2 separate regions of the Homo sapiens genome follow, and region 2 is linked to region 1. The links come from fine-mapping of genetic effects on gene expression. A gene starts in region 1. The other region holds a variant in brackets. All regions are shown on one strand. Distances are between the middles of the regions. Region 1 holds the start of DCTN5 (dynactin subunit 5). Region 2 overlaps PLK1 (polo like kinase 1).

What was found.
Region 2: its variant is fine-mapped to the expression of DCTN5 in whole blood (TOPMed, PIP 0.99).

Annotation. Positions count from the first base shown.
Region 1 is chr16:23,637,331-23,645,721 of GRCh38, forward strand. DCTN5 (dynactin subunit 5) reads left to right here and starts at 4,136. Exons shown (of 6, transcript NM_032486.4): 1 at 4,136-4,260; 2 at 5,625-5,693. The coding sequence starts at 4,213. It overlaps PALB2 (partner and localizer of BRCA2), which reads right to left and starts at 3,980. Exons shown (of 13, transcript NM_024675.4): 1 at 3,780-3,980; 2 at 740-799; 3 at 520-622. The coding sequence starts at 3,827. RefSeq lists a silencer at 3,047-3,281 and an enhancer at 4,409-5,198.
Region 2 is chr16:23,689,041-23,697,300 of GRCh38, forward strand. PLK1 (polo like kinase 1) reads left to right here. Exons shown (of 10, transcript NM_005030.6): 8 at 198-352; 9 at 454-636; 10 at 820-1,327. The coding sequence ends at 1,023. It overlaps ERN2 (endoplasmic reticulum to nucleus signaling 2), which reads right to left. Exons shown (of 22, transcript NM_033266.4): 14 at 6,854-6,938; 15 at 6,160-6,349; 16 at 5,979-6,078; 17 at 5,688-5,887; 18 at 3,144-3,291; 19 at 2,923-3,050; 20 at 2,262-2,385; 21 at 2,089-2,156; 22 at 1,270-2,003. The coding sequence ends at 1,791. Among named protein-coding and RNA genes, the nearest start is that of PLK1, 14 kb to the left of the region's middle. The variant G/T (reference allele first, on the strand shown) is at 3,399.

The DNA.
Region 1 (8,391 bases):
CAAGAGAGGGAAAAAGAATAAACAGTCTAACTGAAAATAGAGACTATAGATTTTACGGCATATGAATTTTATGTTAATTAGAATATATTGCAGCCGGGCACAGTGGCTCACACCTGTATCCCAGCACTTTGGGAGGCCCAGGCAGACAGATCATTTGAAGCCAGGGGTTCAAGACCGGCCTGGCCAACATGGCGAAACCCCATCTCTACTAAAAATATAACAATTAGTCAGGTGTGGTAGTGCACGTGCCTGTAGTCCCAGCTACTCAGGAGGCTGAGGCACGAGAATCACTTGAGCCTGGGAGTTGGAGGTTGTAGTGAGCCAAGATTGTGCCACTGCACTCCAGCCTGGGTAACAAAGAGTGAGACTCTGTCTCAAAAAAATAAAATTAAAATTAAAATTAAAATTAAAGCGTCTATTGCTAGTCATTATCTTCACACTGTGGGAAAAAGAACAATAGCCAAAATATACCTGGGAAATGAATAATAAAGCAGGCATAAGTGAATGGTCTAGATTTACCTGAGTGTTTTAGCTGCGGTGAGAGATCCTGCTGAGACAAACAATCTTGTTCTTCTACTGTTTTCTTAATAGAATGCTTAATCTTTTCAGCTCTTTGGGCACGCTAGAGGAGACAAAAACAGCCCCAGAAATACGTTTTCTTTAAAGTTTTATAGAGTCAAGAACTGTTTTTAAATTGTTTGTACTATAACACCTTAATTTGAGAATACGATTCACTTACCTGAAGGCGGGCTAGTGTCTTGCTGTATTCCCTTTTCAAGAATGCTAATTTCTCCTTTAACTGGAAGAAGAAAAACACCAACAATACTGGGCAAGTGGAAAGGTGGAGTCAGAGGGAAGGGATGCAGTGCTTGGCGGGGTCCCTTGGCAAGAGGCAGGGAGTAGCACTGGTCCATAACAATCTACTTTTGGTTCTCAAAAAGCACCAAGCTCTGACCATTTCAGGATCTTTGCATAACCTGTTCCTATCATCTGGAACATGTCCTTCCTTTGCCAATTCCTACTGATTCCTCAAACCTTAGCTTAGATTTTTATTTCCCTGGGATAGACTTCTAGGTCCTTCTCCAAATCTAGGTTAGACACTCTACCAGTCCTCTGTACTTTCCTTACCACAGTATTCTCACACTATGTTCTCTGTTTCTCCCCATCATCCAGATCCTTGAAGGTAGCAGGAACTGCCATCCTCAGTCACTCAACAAATGAATCTTCTATTTATCCGTTAATGGTCCAGGTATCTCTAGTACCTGGAATAATAATTGATACCCACTATGTGTCAATTAGTGCTCCAGATGCTATTCTAGATGCAATTTACATACAGTGAGGGAGACAGATAATAAATAAGAAAACAAACAGAAATGATTTTACAAGGTAAAAAAATACACAGATAAACAGAGTGATATGAGAGAGTTACTGGCCTACTGACAGGGACTACTTTAGTTACAGTGGTCAGGGAGGCATTTTTGACTATCATTTGAGCCTAAGACTGAATGAGGAAGGAGCTAGTTTTGGGAAGATCAGAGGGAACGGTACCCCAGGCAGAGGGAACCACAAATATAAAAGCTCTGCAGTGGAATAGGTTACCTACGTTTGAGGAACACGCAGAAGGCCAGTGAGGTTGGAGCTATCATTGCTCAATCTCCAGCCAGGCACACAGTAGGCATTTAACAAATATTTATTAAATAAATAAATGAATTGGGCTGAATCAAATTACTGTTCTCTGAAAGCCTAGATTCCCTCGTCTCTCTGGCTTCTTTGCTTCAAAGGATTCTCTCAGCAGCAAAGCCAGCCTCGGTTTTTCTGCTTTTTAGCAACTTTTTAGCTGTACTCATCTTTCAACCAACAAAACATCAAGATTTCCATCCTCCATACATGCCTTTTTTAAAAAAAAGAAAAGACCTACTCAGCTGGGCGCAGTGGCTCACGCCTGTAATCCCAACACTTGGGGAAGCTGAGGTGGGTGGATCATTTGAGGTCAAGAGTTCGAGACCCGCCTGGCCAACATGGTGAAATCCTGCTTCTACTAAAGATACAAAAATGAGCCGGGTGTGGTGGTGGGTGCCTGTAGGAGGCTGAAGCAGGAGAATTGCTTGAACCCGGAGGCGGAGGTTGCAGTGGGCCTAGATCACGCCACTGCACTCCAGCCTGGGCAACAGAGCGAGACTCTGCTTGAAAAAAAAAAAAAAAAAAAAGGCCGGGTGCAGTGGCTCACACCTGTAATCCCAGCACTTTGGAAGGCCAAGGCGGGCAGATTACCTGAGGTCAGGAGTTCAAAACCAGCCTGGCCAACATGGAGAAACCCTGTCTCTACTAAAAATACAAAAATTAGCCCGGCGTGGTGTTGGGCGTCTGTAATCCCAACTACTCGGGAGGCTGAGGCAGGAGAATCGCTTGAACCTGAGAGGCGGAGGTTGCAGTGAGCCAAGATCGAGCCACTGCACTCCAGCCTGGGAGATAGAGCGGAGAGTCTGTCTCAAAAACAAACAAAACAAAACCTATGTGCAAAACATGCTACTAGACAAGTTGCCAACCGTAAGGAATTTTCTTTTTTTTTGAGAGACAGTCTCACTCTGTCGTCCAGCCTGGCGTGCAGTGGCGCGATCTCGGCAGCTCCCTGCAACCTCAGCGTCCCCTGGTTCAAGCGATTCTCGTGCATCAGCCTCTGAGGCCTGAGCCTCTGGGACTACAGGCTGGCGTCACCACACCCGGCTAATTTTTGTATTTTTAGTAGAGACGGGGTTTCACTACGTTGCCTAGGCTGGTCTCAAACTCTGAGCTCAAGCGATCTGCCCATCTCGGCCTCCCAAAGTGCGGGGATTACAGGCGTGAGCCAGGGAGACTGGCCTCCCACCAATCTTATCAATGTCTGGGGATTATCTTGTTTACTTATAAATGATCTTTCTCACCTCCACCAGAAGGTAAGCCAGGATAAGAATAACATCAGCACAAGCTGGAAACATCCTAAAAGTCTATCAGTAAAGTACAGTCTAAAGAAGCAAGGGCACTTCCAAGGCCAGGTGCAGTGGCGGGTTCGTGTAATCCCAGCTACTCGGGAGGCTGAGGCAGGAGAGTCGCTTGATCCCAGGAAGCGGAGGTTGCAGTGAGCCGAGATCGCGCCACTGCACCCCAGCATGGGTGGCAGAGTGAGACTCTGTCTCAAAAAAGAAGAAAAACAGAAAAGGAAGAAAAAAGAAACAAAACGAGGGCACTTCCAAACTACAACATACTGTCTAGAACTTAAAAAAGAAAGCAAGGTAGATAAACATGTCCTGACAGGAAAGCTAAACGGAACCTGCAGAACCATTCAGATCATACCATTTATGAACATTCCCTTCTCCAAAAAATATACATAGGATTCCTTTTTGGTGGTTAGGGATACGCCCCTCCTCCACCACCCACATTAACACACGAAAGGACCTGGAAGTACCAGACTTAAAAGATTTACTTGAGGCCGTCCGGGGGGAGAAGTAAAGATTGAGGGTGTGGGAGGGGGGAGGAGCAAGGGTGTCGATACAGCTTTATCTACAAACTGTTACACATTGTATTAATGCGCTGCTACTGTAATGAAATTTGTTCTTTAAACGCCACCACGTGAGCACCACGCTATTTCCACATTTTCATTTTCTGTGCCCCCTCAGCCCTAAGAGGAGGGGGTGGTCAGATGATACTGCTGCCCTCGGACTGCCGAGGACACAAAGCCAGGCCTAAAACCCTGGGAAAGCGGGGTCAGAGTCCTGCGTCCGCCCTTCCCGCACCCCCGGCACCTTTTCCTTCTCCTCACAGCTGAGGGGCTTCCCGGGAGGCTCGTCCATCGGGCAGGCGACAGAACGAAAAGAGCAGCCGTCGCCGACCCCAGGCCTGCCGACACCGGGACCCAGTTGGCCCTGGGCCGGGGAGGCGCCCCAGGAAGGAATGGGGAGCCCGGGATCGCACCCTCAGTGCGCGATCAGCTGACCCACGCGGGCCAAGCGCGCCCTAAACTCCGGCCAATTAAATCCACCATTCGGCCTGCGCACGCGCAGCCGTAGACGGCCGAGCAGTGGAGCGAGGCCGCCTAAAGGAGAGCCGCGCTGTCGATGAGTCCCAGTGGGCCACCTGGAGCGGAAGTGGAGGAGCGGCCGGAAGTAGCCGGAATCTCTGAAAGACTGACCGACTGACTCTGACAGGATCCGGGGCTGAGGGAAGGAGGCGGCGGCCATGGAGTTGGGCGAGCTGCTCTACAACAAGTCTGAGTACATCGAGACGGTGCGCGGGTCCAGATATGTATCCTCCTCTTTCCAACCCTGCGTCCCTTTGAGGCCTGGTCGGCGTTCCCAACCTGCCCCTACCCCACCAACCCCTGTCCCTTTGGCCATTAGTCCCGGATTATCTAGCGATGCCCCGTGTACCGTCTGGCTTTGCTGTTTACTCCGCGCTTGGCCAGTTGAGGCCTTTTGTATTTATTCCTGATTTTCTCATAGGGGTAAAGTGCCTTCGGGAGGATAGGACAAGTCCCATCCTGTTCATACGAATTACAGCTCGGACTTCGGGCCCTTTTACACTGCCTTTTGTATCTGTTAACTTGCGCTAAAAACGATTCGGTTCTTTTTTTTTGAGGAAGGGGGTTGGGGGGCGGAGACTCTGTCGCCCAGTCCTGAGGGCCGCGGCGCGATCTCTGCTCACTGCAACCTCCGCCTCCCGGGTTCAAGCGATTCTCCTGCCTCAGCGTCTCGAGTAGCTGGGATTACAGGCGCCCGCCACCACGCCCGGCTAATTTTTGTATTTTTTGGTAGAGACGGGGTTTCACCGTGTTGGCCAGGCAGGTCCCTAACTCTTGACCTCAGGTGATCGACCCGCCTCGGCCTCCCAAAGTGCTGGCATTACAGGCGTGAGCCACCGCACCCTGCCGATTTGGTTCTTTATGATCAGTACATGATATGTTTGTAAAATCTTGGAAACAGGGCAAGTGGTCAATTAACGTTACTATCGTTATTTTGGTTTTCTTTGCTTTCTCACAACTCTGATACTCATAGTCATTATCCTCGTTTTAAGGCCGTAAAGCCCACGCGTGGAAGTGGGATTTGAATCCGCGTCTGTCTGATGCCACCAAGCTATAGACATTCAAATTATGAGTTTATTCCTTGAGTCCCTAGTTTCCTTTGTGTTTTTATTTTTTGAGACAGGTTCTCACTCTGTTGCCCAGGCTGGAGTGCAGTGGCACAATCACAGCTCATTGCAGCCTCGGCCTTCCAGGCTCAAGCGATCCTCTAGCCTCAGCCTTCTGAGGAGCTGGGACTACAGACACGCGCCACCATGCCCGGCTAATTAAAAAATTTTTTTTTTGTTGAGAAGGGGTCTCACTATGTTGCCTAGGCTGGTCTTGAGCTCCTGTCCTCAAGGGATCCGTCTGCCTCAGCCTCTCAAAGTGCTGAGATTACAGGCATGAGCCACCATACTCAGCCATAGTTTCCTAATCCATCATTGCTTTTTTGATATCCTGGACTCACTCCATTGTGGACAGCACCCCACTTTATGTTTTTTTCTCTCAAATGGGAGCTTTCTTGATGGAAACCTGTAGTCCAGAAACCTATTAAGTTTGCTTTCCCCGGTTTTCCGTTGTTTTCTTTTAGGCATCTGGGAACAAAGTCAGTCGCCAGTCAGTGTTGTGTGGAAGCCAGAACATCGTTCTCAATGGCAAGGTAAGGGACAAAGCCAGCTCCAGGCTGCAAACCTTAGCTTGCGTTCTGCTAATTGTCACCACAGCAGGGCAGATAAAATGTTGCCATATCTCCTATTTATTGTTTACATTTTTAATTCTCTTGTTTTTAAATTTTTTATTTTGTAAATTGGATCTCCTTTTTGTTTTTTTTTTGTTTCGGTTTTTTTTGAGACAGTCTCACTCTGTCGCCCAGGCTGGAGTGCAGTGGCCCCATCTCAGGTCGCTGCAACCTCCGTCTCCCAGGTTCAACCAGTTCTCCTGCCTCAGCCTCCCGAGTAGCTGGGATTACAGGCAGCTGCCACCAAGCCCGGCTAATATTTTGTATTTTTAGTAGAGACAGGGTTTCATCATGTTGGCCAGGCTGGTCTTGAACTCCTGCCCTCAAGTGATCCACCCACCTCGGCCTCCCAAAGTGCTGGGATTATAGGTGTGAGCCACTGCACCCAGCCTAAGTTGGATCTCTTGAATGCAAAAAGGTTCAATAAGAGGCAACAGAAAACCTTTTTTCTTTTATGCCAGGAACAAAATACAGTGGTACCTAGAACCAACATTATTTTATGATATAGTGTGCATTAAACTACTGGGCACAAAGTGTAACAGGTAATGAAATATTTGAAGGTAGAAACTAAAGTAATACTTATAAAATTATCTCTTTAGTAAAAATTAATAATTCACTATTAACTGAAACTCTTAAAACGAATGTGACAATTGGAAAAGATATTAAAGTATGAGACAAATATGCAAAGTGGAATCTGAAAGCCTGAGAATCTTGTAATCCAAATAAATTACAATAGCAAAGAGACGAGTATAAACTTGGAAGAGAAAATATCACAGGGTATATTTGAGCTTGACAAACAGTGAAGTTCACAGTTGTTTTCCTGCCATCTGGAACACTCAATTTTGAAATTAATTTTTCTTTAAATATTACATCTCTAACTTCCAGAAGGAAAATAGTCTCCTTATAACCAAGAGATCACAAATATTTTCAGTAGAAGATAATTAGTCTCCATTAAGCCTGTCATACCAAGGAATTAAGTGGAAAAGAAATATAATTCAGTAATTGCTGCTCAGACATACTGTTTCTTTTTTTTCCTTTTTTGTTGAGACAGAGTATTGCTCTGTCACCCAGGTCGGAGTACAGTGGCGCGATCTTGGCTCACTGCAACTTCCACCTCCTGGCATCAGGTGATTCTCCTGCCTCAGCCTCCAGAGTAGCTGGGATTACAGGCTCCCGCCATCATGCCCACCTAATTTTTTTTTTTTTTTTTTTTTTTTGAGATGGAGTCTCGCCCTGTTGCCCAGGTTGGAGTGCAGTGGTGCGATTTTGGCTCACTGTAAGCTCCGCCTCCCAGGCTCACGCCATTCTCCTGCCTCAGCCTCCTGAGTAGCTAGGACTACAGGCACCCACCACCATGCCCAGCTAATTTTTTGTATTTTTATCAGAGATGGGGTTTCACCGTGTTAGCCAGGATGGTCTCAATCTCCTGACCTCGTGATCCACCTGCCTTGTCCTCCGAAAGTGCTGGGATTACAGGCGTGAGCCACCGCGCCTGGCCTAATTTTTGTATTTTTAGTAGAGACAGGGTTTCACCATATTGGCCAGGCTGGTCTTGAACTCCTCACCTCAGATGATCCATCCACTTCAGCCTCCCAAAGTGCTGGGATTACAGGCATGAGCCACCACGCCCAGCCCAAGATTTTTTTTCTTATGGTGAACTATGTATAACAATTTGCCATTTTAACAATTTTTTAAAAATTTTTATTATTTGAGACAGTTGCCCAGGCTGGAGTGAAGCGGCGCCATCTCAGTCGCCACAACCTCCGCCTCTTGGCTTCAAGGATTCTCATGCCTCAGCCTCCTGTGTAGCTGGGACTACAGGTGCACGCCACTACACTGGGCTAATTTTTGTATTTTTAGTAGAGGCAGGGTTTTGCCACGTTGGCCAGGCTGGTCTCAAACTCTTGGCCTCAAGTGATCCACCTGCCTTGGCCTCTCAAAGTACTGGGATTACAAGTGTGAGCCACTGCACCCAGCCTAACTATATATATATATATATATATATATATATATATATATATATATATATATATATATTTTTTTTTTTTTTAATACGCAGTTTTGCTCTTGTTGCCCAGGCTGGAGTGCAATGGCACGATCTCGGCTCACCACAACCTCCGCCTCCCAGGTTCAAGTGATTCTCCTGCCTCAGACTCCCCAGTTACAGGCATGTGCCACCATGCCCAGCTAATTTTATATTTTTAATAGAGGCGGGGTTTCTCCATGTTGATCAGGCTGGTCTCGAACTCCCGACCTCAGGTGATCTGCCCTCCTTGGCCTTCCAAAGTGCTGGAATTACAGGCATGAGCCACTGCGCCCAGCCTTACCAATTTTTAAGTGTACAATTAGTTGCATTAATTACATTCACAATGTTGTGCAACCATCTCCACTATCCATTTCCAAAATTTTTTCATCACCCCAAATAAAAACTCTACACATTAAGGAATACACGCCCATTCCCTACTTCCTTCCATTGCTGATAGCCTGAATCTACTTTCTGTCTCTATGAATTTGCCTATTCTGGATATTTCATATAAGTGGAATCATACAATATTTGTCCTTTTTGTCTGGCTTATTTCACTTAGTGTAAGGTTTTCAAGGTTCATCCTTGTTAAAGCAC
Region 2 (8,260 bases), 52 kb after region 1:
CTCAGCTAATTTTTAAAATATTTTGTAGAGATGGGGTCTCATTACGTTGCCCAGGCTGGTCTCAAACTCCTGGGCTCAAACAATCCTCCTCCCTCAGCCTCCCAAAGTGCTGGAATCACAGGCATGTGCCACCACGCCCGGTCCCACTCCCCACTTTCTATTCCCCCTTTCTGAGACCTCTCTCCACCGATCCCTAGGGTATCAGCTCTGTGATAACAGCGTGGGGGTGCTCTTCAATGACTCAACACGCCTCATCCTCTACAATGATGGTGACAGCCTGCAGTACATAGAGCGTGACGGCACTGAGTCCTACCTCACCGTGAGTTCCCATCCCAACTCCTTGATGAAGAAGGTGAGTGCCGTCCGGCCCATGGGGGGTGGTGTTGCAGAAGTGGGACCTGTGCTGGAGGATCAGACTCTAATTCTGGAACCCCTTACCTACTTTTCATCCAGATCACCCTCCTTAAATATTTCCGCAATTACATGAGCGAGCACTTGCTGAAGGCAGGTGCCAACATCACGCCGCGCGAAGGTGATGAGCTCGCCCGGCTGCCCTACCTACGGACCTGGTTCCGCACCCGCAGCGCCATCATCCTGCACCTCAGCAACGGCAGCGTGCAGATCAACTTCTTCCAGGTGAGCTGGAGGTCACCAGGCGCAGGAGAGAGCTGGGGTAGGCTCCGCATGCCTGGCAGTGGCCCATGTGGGTTGAATGTGGAGTGAGCGGCTCAGGTACCTATAACCTGTTGTGTCTTCCCTCTACTCCCTAACATACACTGGCCTCTGGGATCGCCAACCCCTGCTGCTCTTCTCTTGCAGGATCACACCAAGCTCATCTTGTGCCCACTGATGGCAGCCGTGACCTACATCGACGAGAAGCGGGACTTCCGCACATACCGCCTGAGTCTCCTGGAGGAGTACGGCTGCTGCAAGGAGCTGGCCAGCCGGCTCCGCTACGCCCGCACTATGGTGGACAAGCTGCTGAGCTCACGCTCGGCCAGCAACCGTCTCAAGGCCTCCTAATAGCTGCCCTCCCCTCCGGACTGGTGCCCTCCTCACTCCCACCTGCATCTGGGGCCCATACTGGTTGGCTCCCGCGGTGCCATGTCTGCAGTGTGCCCCCCAGCCCCGGTGGCTGGGCAGAGCTGCATCATCCTTGCAGGTGGGGGTTGCTGTATAAGTTATTTTTGTACATGTTCGGGTGTGGGTTCTACAGCCTTGTCCCCCTCCCCCTCAACCCCACCATATGAATTGTACAGAATATTTCTATTGAATTCGGAACTGTCCTTTCCTTGGCTTTATGCACATTAAACAGATGTGAATATTCTTTTTCTTGTATTTCCTGAGGGGTGCCAGGGCCTGGGATCCAGCGAACATCTCTGCTTCATCAGCCCCAGGCTGCCCAGCCTCTGCCAGTCTTGTGGGGGAAAGGGGGTGACAGTGTCTCTCTGTGGACCAGGCTGGAGTGCAGTGGCATGATCCTGGCTCACTGCAGCCTCGAACTCCTGGGCTCAAGTGATTCTCCCACCTCAGCCTCCCAAGCAGCTGGGACTACAGGCGTGCGCCACCATGCCTGGCTAATTTTACAAATTTTTTGTAGAAATGGGGTGTTGCCATGTTGGCCAGGCTGGTCTCGAACTCCTGAGCTCAAGTGATCCTCTCACTCAGCCTCCCAAAATGCTGGGATTACAGGTGTGAGCCACTGCACCCAGCCTGATTCTGAGGCCAGCCACAGGCTCAGCTCTTCAGTGAGCCAGCACGGAGACCATCTGTGTGGCATCCAGCCCACCTCACCTCCCTGTGGCCCCAGGGCATGGCCTCCTGGCCTCTGAGTCTGGCGGGTAGTAGGGCAGGAAGAGGCTCTCAGAGGCGCAGCTCCTCATGGCTCGGTGCGTGTGGAGGAGCAGCCGTGGGAAGCGGTTTGTGAAGTACTGGACGAAGCCATCAGGGACTTGGCCGAGTGCCTGTCGCACCTCAACTGGGAGCTCCCTGTAGTGGTGCTTCTGTGGGTAGGTAGAGCAGAGAACCCTGGCTCAGCTGCGGCCAGGCCTTCCCAAGACCCAGGCCCACCCAGGCCCCAACACATACCTTGTTCCTCACAGCACGGAGCAGGTCTCGCACTGATGTCCCCTTATAGGACCGGAACTTTCTCAGATCTGTGGACAGGGAATTCAGTGGCAAAACCGTCCCTGCTAGACTCCCCTCCACCGCCCAGGCCCACTCCCCTCCACCGCCCAGGCCCACCTGAGTATGGCCTCTACCTGTCTGCAGCGGCATGGAGATGTGCTCGTGCCAGTTGTCCCGGACCACTGCGCAGCCTCCCGCCTCCAGTGCCCTCACCAGGGGCTCCTGCTCGGACTCCTTCTCCAGCCAGTCACTGACGTCCTGGGGCCCAGAGAGCTCCTGAGCCTTGTGACCGGGGCCAGAGGCCACATAGCCAGGAGTGTGTTGTCTTACAGGAGTAGTTTAGGGTGACTGACAAGGATCATTGCCTCTGGGGGCGTGAAGCTTCTCTGTGCCACGCCTCTGTTATTTACCACCAACCTATGAGCTTGGTACTGCTGTCCCTATTCTACAGATTGAGCAAACTGCAGTTCAGAGGCATGAAGTCTCTTGCTCAAGTTCACTCAAGTGCAGTGGGCTACTGGCACAGCATGAATGATGACTCGGGTGGAAAGGAATGGGCTATATTCCCATACAAAGGGCAGCTGGGGCTGGCAAAGCTGGCAGTGAATGGACCAGAGAGTGCCAAGATGGCGGAGTTTAGGAGTCCAGGCTGGCTCCCAGTTTAGGGAAAGAGCCAGGCTCCCAGGACCAGGTAGCTCTTCCTGTTTTCCCTCAGCTAATCTAATATCCCATTTCTTATTGCCCAGGACCCAAACTTAGGACTTTTGGGGGCCATTCCCAAGCTTTCCTTCTGACCTGGAAGAACTGGAGTTGCTTGGCTCTGCTCCAAAAGAAGGGGTGGGCCAGCACCTGGGGGGCAGAGGGGCGTGGCTGCGGCAGTGGGCTCAACATGGCTCCAACCAGGTCCCGGGCAACCACCTTGTCTGGAGGATGGAAGAGGAGGAGGAGAGTCTGCTTCAGGCCTGCCTAGCGTCTTGCCCGTCCTCCCTTCTCTGCCCTGCCCAGGGCTCCCTCACCGTGGACCTCTTCCTCCAGGTGAGCCAGACAGGGAGCCCCTGTGAGGATGTTTGCCTGGCGATAAAGACTGTCTCCAAAGGGGTGGCTGCCACCAGAAAGCACGTAGTAGAACACGCAGCCTGCAGAGAAGATGTCCACAGCGCTGGTCTGGAGCCAGAGAGATGGGCATGAGAAGGAAATCTCTGCTTCCAGGAAGTCAGCCTGGCTAAATTCTCCCATGGGCTGATAGAGCTGCCAGGGGTTTGGCTCAGACT[G/T]GAACTCAAGATGCTTCCTGGGCAGCATCTCCTTGGCTCTAGATCCCTCCCCTCTACACTACTATAGGGGGCCCATGGTTTTCATCCAAAACCTTTGCCCTTACTGAGCTAGTTCAGGTTTCCAAGCTTCATTCCTGCAGGGTATAGGGTTACATAAGTGGGTGCCATACATGAGGCAATAAGGCAATCAGGAGGACTGTGGTGACCTGGCATGGGTTTTTTCTGCAGGGGCAGCTGGTCCTTAGCTTCAACCGGTTGTCACCAGGGGACTCTCCAGGGTGGCAGAGCTGATTTTGTTTTTTTTTTTGTTGGGGCTTTGCTCATGTTGCCCAGGCTAGAGTGCAGTGGCGCAACCACAGCTCACTGTAACCTCAAACTCCTGGGCTCAAGCAATCTACCTCGGCCTGAGTAGGTGGGACTACAGGCATGTGCCACCATGCCTGACCAATTTTTAAATTGTTTGTAGAGATGGGTCTTCTTATGTTACCCAGCCCGATCTTGAACTTTTGGCCTCAAGCGATTCTGATTTTTTTTTTTTTTAAAGAAAATCCAGAAATCCAAATTTTATGTGGAATTTCTCAAATGTTAAAATATTGGGCCAGGCATGTGGCTGACACCTTGTAATCCCAGCACTTTGGGAGGCCAGGAGTTCAAGACCAGCGTGGGCAACATGGTGAGACCCTGCCTCTACAAAAAAATACAAAAATTAGCTGGGTGCCATGTTGTGTGCCTGTAGTCCCAGCTACTTGGGAGGCTGAGGTGAGAGGATCCCTTGAGCCCAGGAGTTTAAGGCTGCAGTAAGCTGTGATGGTATGACTGCACTCCATGACAGAGCAAGACCCTGTCTCAAAAATATATATATATAGGGCCAAGCACAGTGGCTCATGCCTATAATCTCAGCACTTTGGGAGGCCGAGGTAGGTGAATCACCTGAGGGCTGGGAGTTCGAGACCAGCCTGGCCAACATGGCATAAACCCCATCTCTACTAAAAATACAAAAATTAACTGGGCATGGTGGCACCTGCCTATAGTCCCAGCTACTAGGGAGGCTGAGGCAGGAGAATCACTTGAACCCAGGAGGTGGAGGTTGCAGTGAGCTGAGATCATGTCACTGCACTCCAGCTTGGGCAACAAGAGCGAAACTCCATCTCAAAAAAAAAAAAATATATATATATATAGGCCACTAATTTAAATATAAACTGTATAGTCTCATGACATCATGCATTTAGTCCTTGAGCCCTGCTCACCACTTTGAGCTTTCTCTCAACTTTAGGAGTGGGGGCAGCCTTCCCTGGTGACTGTCCTTTTGTGTGATTGGCATCCATTTCTCTGGCTTCAACTTCCGCCCACACACTGTGACTCAAAATCCGTAATTCAGGGGTCCCAAACGCAAGTGTCTGTGTGGGTCAGACGCTGCTCTGTGTATCAACTAATTAGCTCATCTGATGCCCTCCAAAACCTTCGATACCAGTGGTTCTGGAACTTGGCTCCACATAAAAATGACCCAGGCAATTAGGTAAAAATCACGGGGTGTGGGGCCTGGGGTTTTGTTTGTTTGTTTGTTTTTTGTTTTTTGAGAGAAAGAGTCTCACTCTGTTGTCCAGGCTAGAGTGCAGTAGTGTGATCTTGACTCTGGAACTTCCACCTCCCAGGCTCAAGCGATCCTCCCACCTCAGCCTCCCAAGTAGCTGGGACCACAGATGCACACACCCACACCGGCTAAATTGTGTGTGCTTTTGGTAGAGACGAGGTCTCCCTAGGTTACCCAGGCTGGTCTCGAACTCCTGAGCTCAAGCAATCTGCCTGCCTCGGCCTCTCAAAGTGCTGGGATTACAGGCGTGAGCCACCGCACCCGGCAATGGGCATTCTTTTTTTAAGTTGCGCAGTGGTTGTGAAGCACAGTGAAGATTACAAACCATTTTCTAGCTCAGGGTTTCCCAACCTCAGCACAACTGGCATTTTGTTAGTTCTTTGTGTTGGGTGTTGTCCTGTCCTGTAAGACATTTAGCAGCATTTCCAGCAGATGCCAGTAGCCCCTCCCTCCCAAGTCATGGCAGTCAAAAATGTCTCCAGACATTGCCTAATGTCCCCTGGGTGGCAAAACAGTCCTGATACTGCTGTAGAAGGAGGGACAAATTATCCCTTCTTTAAGGGAAACAAGCTTGGAGGAGCAGCTCAAAGTCACACAGCAAGTGTCATGGAGTCTCCTCAGGAGGGGAACTGGGACAGGGACGGATTCCTGCAGCCTGGGGCAGCTGTGTGCCTGGAGGACTTGGTGGATAGACTCACAGGACTGTCTGGTGGCAGGAGCTGCAGAAGCTCGGGCGCCATCCAGCCTTCCGTGCCGGGGATGCCGGAGTGGAGGCTGAAGCTACAGCGGCCAGCAGGCAGCTTCTTGCAGAGGCCGAAGTCTGAGAGCACCACTCTGCCCAGGCCCTGGCTGTCAGGCCCGGTGATGAGAATATTTCCTGGCTTCAGGTCCCGGTGCACTGTGGGAGAGGGGCAGAAAGAAAGCTGGTTGCTGAGGGCGGAAGGCAGGGGCTAAGGACAGGGAGCGGGAGGCAGGGGAAGTGCGGGTACCTATGTGTAAAGAGTGCAGGTGGGCCAGGCCAGACATCAGCTGCTGCAGCACGACCTCGGGCTCCAGACCCCCGCGATCCAGGTCCGGGTTTTCTACGTACTGAGCAGCAGCAAGGGCCAAAGCATCACTCTCCAGCCCGGACCTTCCCACTCACCCTCCCTGAACCGCAATGCAACTCACCTCCTGCAAGGAGGCCCGGCAGAGCTCCAGGGCAATGTAGTGGAACTGGGGTCCCCGCTCGGTGCAGAAGTAGCGGAGCACGTTGGGGTGCCTGTCAGACTCCTGCAGCAGTTGAACTTCCCGCCGAACCAGGCCAAAGCACTCGCGGAGGAGCCGCTTGACAGCCACTGCCCGTCCCTCAAACTGTCCCCTGGAAAGTGGGTGATGGCGGGGGCAGGGGGGCATTCAGGGAAAGCAGATAAAGGGACAAACATGGTGGCTCACACCTGTAATCCTAGCACTTTGGGAGGCCAAGGCGGGCGGGTCACTTGAGGTCAGGAGTTCGAGACCAGCCTGGCCAACATGGTGAAACCCCCATCTCTACTAAAAAAAATATAAAAATTAGCCGGGCATGGTGATACACACCTGTAATCCCAGCTACTGGGAAGGCTGAGGCCCGGAATTGCTTGAACCTGGGAAGCGGAGGTTGCAGTGAGCTGAGATTGCACCACTGCCCTCCAGCCTGGGCAACAGAGCAAGACTCAAAAAAAAAAAAAAAAAAAAAAAAACAGATAAAGGAAAGAGCAGGACTGGCGAGTGAGGGATCAACCTGTACCCACCTCGGGGAGTCTTTGAAAGAATGTCTCTCCAGGGGACAGTGCCCACGAGGGCTGTGAGTGCCATGTCCCCAGCTTGGCTCCTGGCTGCCACTCACCGGAAAACGAAAGTCCCGCCTGCCCCGCGGCCCAGCACGTCCTTGGGATTGAAGGAAATCTTCCCCACTACGGTGAGTTGCTCAGCTGGGGGAGAGGAGGGTGGTGACTCAGGGAGCCTCTGCCCACCTTTGCCGGCCACTGGCCCAGTCCAGACTCACCTTGACATTTTCTGGGCCTCCACCCTCCCATGCTCAGCCTGGTGCAGTGGGTAAGAGCAAGGGCCCAAGTGCCAGACTGTCTGGATCCAATGCCTGGTGCTGCCACTGATTCTTTGTCTACTTAGGCAAATTCCTCACTTCTGTGCCCTCGGTATTCTCATCTGTAGAGTGGGGAGCTAAAGCTAAAGAGCCCACACAATATTATTGTGAGGATTAAATGGATATATGGAAAGAACGGGTGGAGGTGATGTTTGCTATATTATCCTCTTTTATTTCTCTCCCTCTTTCAGCATCTTCTGCACAGGTTTGTTTTGTTTTGCTTTGTTTTCCCTTTACATCCTCTGCCATTCTGCCCACCTCCACCAGTTGTAACTGAATCCTTTTAATTGACACTGAATCAGCTTCAACTTCAAGGTAAGGTGAGTTCTGGCAGTTGGAAGAGTGATGAGAGTGAGTATAGCCACAGAAAAAAGACTGGACCGGACAGAAGCAGTGGGCATTGGATGCTAACCTGCCCAGAGTTAGTTCCAGGGCAGCAGGGGTACCCCTAGAGGCCTCGGTTTCCCATTAGGATGGGTGGGGTCGGCTCAGGTGGGCAAAGATCTGTAGGTTGGGACAATTACTGCCCTTCCCTTTGGGCAGCCTGTGAGAGACGTCTCACTCTGACCCTGGCAAATCTGGGCAGGCTGTGTCCTGCTCAGCTCCAACGGGCACTATTCATATGGCAAAACATATATGGCACCCCTAGAGTTGTGCAGTGCGGTGGTCCTGAGAACACTCTACTTTATAAGAGTTTTTAGCTTCAGTTTTTACAATCAGCTCTGGGAAGAGTAAATGAAAATCAGCATTAGGGCTGGGCACCGTGGCTCACACCTGTAATCCCAGCACTTTGGGAGGCCGGGAAAGGTGGATCACTTGAGTTCAAGACCAGCCTGGGAACATGATGAAACCCCATCTTTACAAAAAAAACTAGCCAGGCATGGTGTTGTGTGCCTGTCATCCAGCTACTCAGTAGGCTGAGGTGGGAGGATTGGCTTGAGCCTGGGAAGCAGATGTTGCAGTGAGCTGAGATCACGCCACTACATTTCAGCCTGAGTGACACAGCAAGACCCTATCTCAATAATTAATAATAATAATAATAATAATAATAATAATAATAATAAAATCAGCATTAGGGATCAGTGAGAAAACACCAAGTTGCACCTTAGCATTCCTCTGGATTATTTGCTTAGAGTTCATACTCATCTG